3 linked regions of the Homo sapiens genome follow. The protein of the gene in region 2 purifies or fractionates together with the protein of the main gene of each other region. This does not show direct contact. Each region holds a gene or a part of one and is shown on either strand. Other genes may lie near its edges. The genes, in order: UBA3, NT5DC1 and SRM.

Evidence for each region.
Region 1: the proteins of NT5DC1 (region 2) and UBA3 fractionate together in Homo sapiens (co-fractionation; one large-scale study listed by BioGRID). This does not show direct contact.
Region 3: the proteins of NT5DC1 (region 2) and SRM fractionate together in Homo sapiens (co-fractionation; one large-scale study listed by BioGRID). This does not show direct contact.

What each region holds. Positions count from the first base shown.
Region 1 is NC_000003.12:69,063,335-69,066,983, forward strand, and holds part of UBA3 (NEDD8-activating enzyme E1 catalytic subunit), read right to left. Parts: intron 778-3,649; coding exon 734-777; intron 170-733; coding exon 105-169; intron 1-104. UniProt on the Homo sapiens protein: Catalytic subunit of the dimeric UBA3-NAE1 E1 enzyme. E1 activates NEDD8 by first adenylating its C-terminal glycine residue with ATP, thereafter linking this residue to the side chain of the catalytic cysteine, yielding a NEDD8-UBA3 thioester and free AMP.
Region 2 is NC_000006.12:116,099,341-116,103,742, reverse strand, and holds the start of NT5DC1 (5'-nucleotidase domain-containing protein 1), read right to left. Parts: upstream 2,891-4,402; 5' UTR 2,813-2,890; coding exon 2,720-2,812; intron 1-2,719.
Region 3 is NC_000001.11:11,054,057-11,057,135, forward strand, and holds the end of SRM (spermidine synthase), read right to left. Parts: intron 2,702-3,079; coding exon 2,548-2,701; intron 2,039-2,547; coding exon 1,955-2,038; intron 1,871-1,954; coding exon 1,725-1,870; intron 1,029-1,724; coding exon 906-1,028; intron 830-905; coding exon 809-829; 3' UTR 533-808; downstream 1-532. UniProt on the Homo sapiens protein: Catalyzes the production of spermidine from putrescine and decarboxylated S-adenosylmethionine (dcSAM). Has a strong preference for putrescine as substrate, and has very low activity towards 1,3-diaminopropane. Has extremely low activity towards spermidine.

The sequences.
Region 1 (3,649 bases), on a different chromosome or scaffold from region 2:
AAAATTAAACTCTGATTTTTCAAAAATATATCAATTCTAATTTTGGGGATGTGAAGCACAGCAGCAAGAACTTCAGAGAACTATAACAATACTAAAGTCTTTACCAGCATGCCATTTATCCATCTTCTGGCGATGATAGAGTCCAGTCCACATACAATAATATGAAATTCTACAAAAAAAAAAAAAAGCAACTTTAGTTTTTAAATATGTAGTTGCATGATGATCTTTCAATGTAGATTCATCAACTGCAACAAATGTACCACTCTGGTGCAAGATGTTGATTAGGAAGGTAGTGTGTTTGTGGGAACAGGAAGCTCTATGAGAACCCAAGTTTTCAAAAATTTTCTGTTCAATTTTGTTGTGAACATAAAACTGCCCTAAAAAATAAAGTTTACTAATTAAAAAAAAAAAGCACTTGCAGAAAACAATTTGCACGTTCTAAGAAACCAACAAAAAAACCACAAGCACTTTTTACTGTAATCCCACATACGTTCTCAGAGCTCCAATTCCTTGAGTGAACTCTCATTCAGGTAAGCATAGAAACTTGTAGCTGGTCATGTCAGCTAAAACTAGCATTCTCTTTTCAGTCTATCAGCAACATTACTGAAAAGCCAACAGTGAGAGAGGAAAGCAAGTGAAGAAATAGCCTTGAAATAGCTAGCAATATTTGAATAGCTACCAACTAAAAAATTCTAAGAATCTAGTGAGCATTAATTTCAAGTAAAAAACTTACGTCGATAGAAAGTGTCGTTAAAATCTTGAATCTTGTTGAAATGTCTGAATACAAGTAAAGGAACTTAAGCAGCTAAGTTTTAATTTCTAAAATGAATTTGACAATGCCATAAGGAACACACTCTGCATATATTTACAACAAGAAATAAGTAATCAATGTTCACATCAGTGGAATTCAAGGAATCTGACTAAATGAACACAACTCTCCTTTCTGACAAAACTTTTCTGCCATTCCTCCCCTAACTACTTACTTTTTCTCATTCCTGAACCCCTATATCATTATATTTATGCCCTTGGTAGGAGGTATACTTTCTACTTTGCTTTGGTTTTTATATAAAACCATAAGCCCCAGGAAAGCAGAATGTGTGTCCTCAATCATCAGCATCAAGAAGAGATGCAATAAATGTTTTAGTGAAGGAAAGATGCACATTATAGTTCCTATTTTGCTAGGTGATTTTAAGAGTTACTGCAAAGCTCATTTTTTTAACATACAGAAAATTTCAACAGCTTTTTCAGTTGGTAAAGATTTTACTGTTTTTATTTTTTGTGGGGAGGAGAAAAAGTACGAATTTTTTCTACCTTTCTCATTTAACTCAGTTTTCAAGTTACCCTACCAAATCCTATTACCAGTCTTCCCATCCCTGGAGGCTAAAAAGGAAACTCCATTCAAAACTGATTGTGGGTGAGTCAATATAGCACTTAATGTTTTAATAGCACATGTGTGCAAAAACTTGTTTTAATTTTTCTAATGAATGGAGCAATTGTTTAATAATTTATAAATTATGCAACTTCTCTAAAGTTAAGATAAATAGTCCACTATAAATTTTTTAAAAGCAATACAGAGAAAAAAGGGACAATACATAGAAAAAAGGGACAATACATGCTTCCTCTAGATTTTTAATTCTTGCCTACAAATAAAGCTATGAACAATAATTTCAATTCTAGCCCTCAGTCATTCAGACCTCTATTCCCTTTGAATGCTAGGCAAGCAGGAGAACGAAGCTACAGCTAGAAAGAGGTCAAAAAAGAAACAAAGCAAACAGTGGAGGAATGGCAATCAGGGAACCAAGAGCCAGACTAAGAAATCTAATCTGGATTTCTAGAAAATACCCAAAGTTTCCCAGACCCACATAATGGGGATAGACAAACTGAGTGCCCCCCACTAACCAACCCACCCCCACCAACTCTTCCTTTTTCCCTACAGGGGCCTGTATTTGCATTTTTAAGCTCTTTATTTTGAAATAATATAGATTCGCAGTAAGTTGCACAGATAGTATAGGTAGGTACCATGCACCTTTCCCAGTTACATCTTACTATAGTACAGTACCAAAACCATGAACAGAACATTGGTACAATGTGTGTTTATAATTCTGTCATTTAAACACACATAGATTTGTGTAACCACCACCCCAGGCAACACACATAACTATTCGACCACAATAAAGATCTCTCTGCAGCCTCCACATCCTGGGCTTAACTGATCTTCCTGCCTCAGCCTCCCACATAGCTGGGACTACAGGCATGTGCCACCATGCCCGGGTAATTTTTCTAGTTTTTACAGAAATAGGGTCTCATTTGTTGCCTAGGCTGTTCTCAAACAACCAGGCTCAAGTGATCTTCCCGCCTCAGCCTCCCAAAGTGCTGGAATTACAGGCCTGAACCACCACACCCAGCCATCTCTATAATTCTGTAATTTCAAGAGTATTATATAAACAGAATCATGCAGTATATGACCTTTTGAGACTGGCTTTTTTTTTTTAGTCTAATAGTTGTGTAACAGTATCGCTCATGGTGGTCTTAGTTTGATGTGAAACATCTTTTCATGTGCTTTTCGTCATCCTTTTTAGTAAAATATCTCTTCCTATCTTTTGTCTATTTTCTAATTGAATTTTTTTTTGTTTTACTGTTGAGTTTTTAGAGTTCATTATATACTCTAGATATGAGTCCTCCATCAGATGCTTTACAAGTATTTTCTCCAGTCTGTGGCTTTTCTTCATCCGTTTAAGAGGGTCTTTCACACAGCAAGTTTTTAATTTTGATGAAGTTCAGTGTATCAATTTTTTCCTTTTATGGCTCATGCTTTTACAAAAAATTATTTTAATTTTTTAGAGATGATGTCTCACTACATTGCCCAGGCTGGAATGCAGTGGCTATTCACAGTATGACCACAGCCTACTATAGCTTCAAACTCCTAGTCTCAAGCAATCCTCCCACCTTAGCCTCCCAAGCAGCCAGGACTCTGTAGTGGTATGATAAAAGCTCACTGCTTCCTCAGTGATCTGCACCACCATACCCCACCTTTTACAGGTCTTGCTTTTGACGTGGCCTAAGCACTCTCCACCAAACCCTAAAGTTCTATCGTTTTATGGTTTTTTGTGTTTTTTTTTGTTTTTTTGAGATGGAGCCTTGCTCTGTCGCCCAGGCTGGGGTGCAGTAGCGCAATTTCAGCTCACTGCAACCTCAGCCTCCTAGGGTCAAGCGATTCTCCCACCTCAGCCTCCTGAGTAGCTGGGAGCCACTGTGCCCGGCTAATTTTTGTATTCTTAGTAGAGACGGGGTTTCACCATGTTGGCCAGGCTGGTCTCGAACTCCTGACCTCAAGTGATCCACCCACCTCGGCCTCCCAAAGTGCTGGGATTACAGGCATGAGCCACCACGCCTGGCTCATTTTATATTTTATATTTACACCTATAATCCATTTTGAGTTAATTTTGTATGTTTAGGTCAAAATTCATCTTTTAACTATGGATATGAAATTGCTCCAGTACGATTTGTTGAAGACTATGCTTCTTCCATTGGAACTGTTTTGCACCTTTATCAAAAACAAATTGGCCATACTTATATGGGGCTATTTCTGGCTTCCCTATTCTGTTCTAGTCATCTATATATCCCTCTGGTAACGCCACTGAGTCTGGAT
Region 2 (4,402 bases):
GGGGGACACACTCAGTTCTGTGTTTGCACAACTCTGTGCAGTTGTTAAATGCCTACAAAACTGAAAGGAGACGCACTCACAGCTCTCCATGATGCAGCCCCCACTGACTTCTCCACCATCTTCTCCTGCAACTTGCCACCTTTTGCTTGCACCCAGCAGTTCCCGGTGCTGTTGCTCACCTCGAGGTTCTGACCTTTACTCTAACTCCTCTGGGTGAAGCACTCCTCTCCACCTCCTCACCTGCCAGCTCCCGGCCTTTCCTCTGTGTTTTCGGGCACCATACAGACAGCAAGGTGGGAAGAAGCAGAAATCCACAGCCGGACTACCTCGCTTAGTTGCCCTGGATACACTTTCCTTCTGTGCCCCGTTGCTTGATGCTCTCTTAACAGTGACTAAATCACTGTTAAGTGATTAAACAGTGGTGATAATATCTACCTCACAGGGACGTTGTAAGGATTAAATCCATTCATATAAGCAGCATGCTTATTAGAATCATGGCTGTATCATATTCTGTTATTAAAATACCTATTATCTATTCAGTCTATTTATTGAGTCCAGTATGTGCCCAGCACTAAGCTCGGCACACAGAACACACAAGAAACTGTCACAGATACTGATGGAGTCATCACGCTGGGCTCTAGGGGAAGTCCAACAAGTAAACAGGAAGTGTTAATATCATGCAGCATGTGCTATGAGGAATGAAGGGTTTTGTGGAAAACTGAAGGTGGGCTTAGAATGGAAGGGCAAACTTTAAGGGCCAAAAAGACTTCCTAAGGGGAACGATGTTTAAGATGAGGCCTGATGGGATGAAGAGCTTCTGTGCAGAGCAAAGAGGCCCTCCAGGCACTGTTGGCAGCGTGAAGCAAGACCCAGGTCATACTACCCACCACAAGGGACCAAGACTAACTCTTCAGCATTTTTGCCTACTGTGTAAGGCTGCCTGGAGGCCTGCGTGTTGATCTCTGTATCCTCAGCTCTAGCATGGTGCTCAGCACACTGTGGGACTTAAAATAAAAAAGATTTCCACACCAAACATGATCCAAAACTCAATAGGTTACTGTTTTCAAGCTTTAAACATCACTTATTCTCCAGGTTTGCAGTAAAAAAACCTCTTGTCTTTGAGAATCTTATATTCTGAAATTTTATGATCACCTATGGACAACACTAGCTCTAACATGACAGTGGTTTAACAATATTACCTCCAAATGAAGGTAACTAAAGAGGAGACACACAAAACTGTGAACCAGGAAGGATTCGAAAGACACAGAGGGAAGGAAAACATGTATCAAAGACCTAGGGGAAGCAGTGGCCAAAGAATCAAGCAGTAAAAAAGCCTTCTTAATTCTCAATGTGACTAAGGAAACCAGACCTGTAAGGTAAGAAAGCAGGAAAGTGTAACAGCAGAAAAAGGACATTTAAAAAAAAATTTAGCATCTGGGCATAGAAAACACACGAGAAATTCGGGCAGCCACTCTTTTTTGACCTTTAACGTGTACCTGAACTGGTGGGTGCAGGAACTGGCGGGTGCCCATAATGGGGCACAACCCTGGCTGATGTCTGCACCAGTGATCTAGAGTTCTACCCATAAACTGTGAGGTTTCCAAATAGTTTGGGTGGTAACCATAAAAGCAAACACTTGTCTTTGCCAAGGTACTATTCTAAGCATTATACATCTCTTACTCATTTAATCCTTGCAACAATCTTGTGAGGTAAATCCAATTATTAGCTCCATTTTACAGATGGGGAAACTGAGAAGCAGCACAGGTTAAGTAACTTCCTCGAAGTCACAGAGCTAGTAACAGTGGAGCTGGTGTCCTAAGCTAGGCAGTCTGGCTGAGGAGTCCTCGCTTTCACCACTGTACTCATAACCAGCTCTTTTTCTGTCTGGATGCTTAGATCTTGGACTAAAAAAATCTGGTAACTTTTCAAAATTAGTTTCCTTGGGAATTGGGAAACCAAAGGAATAGTGGAGGGAGGGCAATTAATTTGAGTGTACAGGTCTGGAAGCATGCATACTCCATGTCCCCCTCCCTCAGGGCACAGTGAGGACCCAAACTTCGCAGACTGTTGGTAGGACTGGAATGTATTCAAAGTGCACGGAGCACGTAGTCGATGCGCAATAAATATGTATTTTCTTCTCTTGATAGAAGGTAAAACTAGGGCTAAGATCTTAATGACTTTTCAACTAGTGTTCCTTTCAATACACTACACTATATACTACGCATCTCTCCCAGATTGCAGTTTAAACACTGATGGGTGGTTGATCGTGCAAACAGAAAAATGCAGCCAAAAAAAATGCAAGTACCAAATCAAGTGGCTGTGTCCACAATCAGCTGGTGTCCAGAAAGACATGCAGAGAAAGTTCCACGACGTGAGATCTTCAAGGACAGCCCTAGTCCCCCTGACCCCGCCCCTCCTCGGCCCTAGAAATCACCGATTCCCCAGCCCGGTCTTGCGCAGTTTGCCCCTCCTTCGTTCTTCCCTATCCCTCTCAACATTAGCTAATGGCTGAGGTAAATGTGCCGGTCCCCACGGCACCGGCGCGGAGCGGAGGCTGCACACTTCCGCCCCTTCTCGCCGCTGGAGGCCGCGCTCTGCGGCAAGACTCGGCCGCCGCAGGCCCCGGGCAGCGTCCGCCGTTGCCCAAACCTGGAGGAAACTCAAGCCCCAGCCGCCATGGAGGTTGCGCGCAGTGCGCCCCGGAGCCCGCGCCACTCACCGGGGCGCTCTCGGGCAGGTTGTAGCGACACAGAGTGTGGTCCAGGTCGAATCCGACCACGTCGCAGGCGGCCAGGGAGAAGTGCTGAGCCATGGCTGCGCGGGGAGCACCAGGGAGCGCCTCGGCCGCGAAGGGTGCAAGGAGCTGGCTGGCGGGACGCTGCGGGACAGGACCGGGCCGGACGCGGCGGGGCGGGGCTGCGGCTGCCAGGGCACACGGCGCGGCAGCCTCTCCCGCCTCCCGCGCCCTCGAGCACCGCCCCTCGATACGCTTAGCCCCCGCCCCTCGCGCGGCGGGCGTCCTGCGCCGCCCGGAGTCAGGTAGTCAGCTCGCGTCCTCCTGGTACCCCAATGCCGGCGACTCCTGATCTGTTCCGCAAGCCTAGGAGCCCAGAAGGCAGTAGGGGTCCAGGAGCGGTGCCGCTGCTGCACAGCTGAGACCTGTAGGCACGTAGCCTTTCCCGAGGGCTACCACAAAATTAACCGGGACACTCCATCGCCTCAGGGCGCCTCGGAAACCAGGAGATCATGAGGTTAGACCTGACCTTTTACCCCTGTGTGAGGAATAGTAAGATCATAGAAAAAATTCATCCGCTAATATCCCTCTGACCCAGTTAGCCTACAATTTGGAAGGTCTTTTCACCCACGTGATCTTTGATAGTGGTTTAAACCAAAAACTTTATATTCCTTGGTTTCCTAAGTGGTTAAGTGGAAGACAGACCTTTCACTATTTCATACCCTGGAGTGCGTTAGAAAATAAATGTATCAGACATCGTGAAGAACCATTTTGCAAGATGATACTTGTTATGGAAACCAATATTGGTTATTACTTGATAATCCTATTTTGTTATTGTAATGAATTTTTTATGAAAGGGCATCAGAAACTTCATAGAAATATATAGAGCATACTACAAAAAACTTTTGCAAACCGGGTTTAAGGTTTATAGAGCACAAAATGTTTTGAGTGACATTTGCTTAATTCTCTCAAGAACTGTATAACTACTACCATTTTAGATGCAGAGAAAGTTAATCCATTACATACAATGTATGCCTTAGGGCATTTAATTCTCTTCCTGATTTCCGGATGTGAAGGACTAGCACTTTGAGATCTTTATTACATAGTACCTCATTTTAAAAAGAAAATACAAATCTATTATGTTTACACTGCTTCAGTTCTCAATTTAAAGGAACAATGTGTCTAATGGGACAAATCAATAGTCGTGACATAATGAAAATATAATTGATTGAGAACTGCATTTAACCCTTTCAAATACTAATCCTTCTGAGGCTAATAGACCAATCAGAGGATTAATTTAGTGCAATAGATAGTACAATTGAGTAGGAGGACACTTATACCTAGTAGACCCATTTGAATAAAATTGATAACTTGTTCCATTATAACACTTAAAAGCCCCAAACAAATCTCTCTGGAATAGGAAAAGTAAAGAATCTTCAAGAAGATTAAGCTGTTCACTGATGAGTCCAACAATCATGTTTTCAATGTCTGTGAACCAAAAGAGAAAAGGCTGGATTGTTGGAGAGGCTGGAAAAAGCTTGTTGGCCCTGGAGCATTGACCTTGGCATTCTCCTCTGCACCTTGCAATAGAATGCTACCAAAGTCAAACTTCCAGGTGCATGCCACATTGAAGGGCACATGTTTCCTTGGGGAATATCTTGTTTCATG
Region 3 (3,079 bases), on a different chromosome or scaffold from region 2:
TCTCAATTTGTCCACATAGGGGGCGGGGCATGGTGGGAATTTGAACCCAAGTCTGAATGCCGGGTGGAGTCAGGGCACAGTCACTGGGCCAGTGTTAAGCTCCTGATGTGCTTAAAAAGGCCGAAGGTAACCAGCCCCGCCACCCCTTCCTGTATTTGCCCTGGAGTACCTGGATGGGACCTGACTTACACCTGTGAGTGTCCCCAATTTTTCTGAGAATGCTCCCGGGCAGCCCCACCCTGATCTCACCCACCCCACTGCCCTGGGGGGCTGTCACCAGTGGCCTTGTGAAGGGCTTGGTAAAAGGACAGCTAAGTCAGCTTCCCAGGACAGCTCTGGGTCCCACGTGACGACTGCGGTGACCCTCTGTGCCCCAGGCTATCCACGATGGCCCGCCTGCAGCCTCAGCCCTGCAGCAGACACTTGGGGGTCAGCCAGCAAGGCCTCTGCAGACCCTCACCCCAGAGGCACCCAATGGTGAATGTGGCCCTGCCTGGGCCCAGCCAAGGTCAGGAGACACAGGACTCCAATCTTTGCTATAAATACACGTGTTTGGTGAGTGAGGGGCAACAGAAGGCAGAGAGATGGCGCTGTACACAGCTGGTATAGGCTTGGAGGTGGAACGCCAGAGAGACAGACACACAGACAGTCCGCCCAGCAGGGCAGGCCGGGCAGCATTCTGGGGCTTGTAACACTTGGTTGGTGGGCGAGAGCCAGCAGGAGGTCCGGCCCGGGGCTGGAGGGGCCGAGGCACCCCGCAGGCTCCAAGGTCCGAGGTCCTGGGTGGCATCAGTGGTGGCGCCTGGGCTCAGCTCACATCATTCAGGGCCTGGAGGGACATGAGGCCAGTCAGGAGGGCGCTCTGGGTCCCTGGGTCCCACCACCCAGCCCCGCAGGCCACCCACCTTGCGGGCAAACTCGGGCAGCACAAAGGCGGCGCGGTGCACGTCGGAGTTGTAGTACTTCAGCTGCATCTGCGCCACCTGCTGCTGTGTCAGCGGCTGCACCGGCTCCTGGAAGTTCGTGCTCTGGGGACCGGGCCAGGGGCACATCAGGGGGGGCACTTTTTTTTTTTTTTTTTTGAGACGGAGTCTCACTGTTGCCACGCTGGAGTGCAGTGGCGTCATCTCAGCTCACTGCAACCTCTGTCTCCCAGGTTCAAGTGATTCTCCTGCCTCAGCCTCAGGTACGCGCCACCACGCCCGGCTAATTTTTTTTTTTTTTGTATTTTGAGTAGTGATGGGGTTTCTCCATGTTGGTCAGGCTGGTCTTGTACTCCTGACCTCAAGTGATCCGCCCACCTTGGTCTCCCAAAATGCTGGAATTACAGGCATGAGACACCGCACCTGGCCTGGGGAGGGTTTTTTTTTTTTTTTGAGTCGGAATCTTCCTCTGTTACCCAGGCTGGAATGTAGTGGCGCAATCTCGGCTCACTGCAAGCTCCGCCTCCCGGGTTCACGCCATTCTCCTGCCTCAGCCTCCCCAGCAGCTGGGACTACAGGCGCGCGCTGCCATGCCTGGCTAATTTTTTTGTATTTTTAGTAGAGACGGGGTTTCACCGTGTTAGCCAAGATGGTCTCGATCTCCTGACCTTGTGATCTGCCCGCCTCAGCCTCCCAAAGTGCTGGGATTACAGGTGTGAGCCACCGCGCCCGGCAGGGGCAGGGATCTCTATTTATGCCCACCTTCCCCCCAACCCCCACCCCCAGACACCCCCATCTCACCGGGTTCTTGCTGCACAGCATGAAGCCGATCTGGCCGCTGGGGTAGGTGGGGATGGTGCAGTAGGCATAGGCCACCACGGGGAACAGGGACTGGCAGAACTGCCGCATCTCCTTGATGAGGTCCAGGTGCAGCCACTGGCACTCGCCTGGGGGCCCCTAAGCATCAGCATCCGGCAGGGCCTGCCCTGCCCCACCCCGCCCCGCCCCAGTGCTCCAGGCCTGTGGCTCACCCTGGCAGCAGAGGACACCATCTTCCTTGAGGGCTGTCTTCATGAGCTGGTAATAGGACTCCTTGAAGAGACTTTCGGCGGGGCCTGGGGAAGACAGAGGGAGACACACTGAACAGTCTGGCTGTGACCTCCAGGGCCACTGTCACCCACACAGCTACCAGGTGGCCAGAGCCAGGATCTGAACCCAGGTCTGTGGGGGATCCACACCTGAATCCCATTCTTGGGGGAGTCTCATTGGCACCACAGCAGAGGAACCTCTAACCTAGGCCTTCGTTCAAGACTAGAACCTGCCCCCACTCCAGTGCTGACCACTTCAGAGCAGAGGGGAGGCTGAAGAGGACACAGGGTCCTCAGTGTCCCAATGCCAGATCCCCACTCTCCTTGGTCACCAGCTTGTGAATCTGGGCAGTCGCCTGGCTCCTGCCTACTGTCCTGAGCCATGTTTCAGAGGGCAGGTAACAAATGAGAAGGGAAAAGTACAGCTCTAGTTCGGGGGGTGGGAGGCCGCTCTATCCTTTACTCTGAAGGCCTGGGGGAGGCTGACCTCCAGACCTGCAGCTGCCAGAAAACCCTGGGGCCCATCCACTGCTTACCCATGGGGTCTGAGGAGTCAGTGATGATCACGTCGAAGGCATCCTGATTCTGTTTCATGAACTCAAAACCGTCACCCACATGTAGGGTCAGCTTCGAGCTAGAGTAGCCAATGGCCATGCCTGGCAGGAACTTCTTGGAGACTTGGATGACATCCTGGAGGGGATGGGAGGGACCAGTCTGGGCCAAGGGGCTGGGGGACCTGGAGCCAGCACAGCCACGTGGGACTCTCCAAGTGCCTCACAGGCAAGCCGCCTTGGCCAACCCCTTCCCTTTTTTTTATTATTTTTTTTTGAGACAGGGTCTCACTTTGTGGCCCAGGCTGGAGTGCAGTGGCATCGATCATGGCTCACTACACCCTCGGCCTCCGGGGCTCAGGTGATCCTCCCCCATCAGCCTCCTGAGTAGCTGGGACAAGTGTGTTCAATCATACTTGGCTACTTTTTAAATTTTTGGTAGAGATAGAGTCTCCCTATGTTGCCTCGAACTCCTCGATCCTCCCACCTCGGCCTCCAAAAGTGCTAGGATTACAGC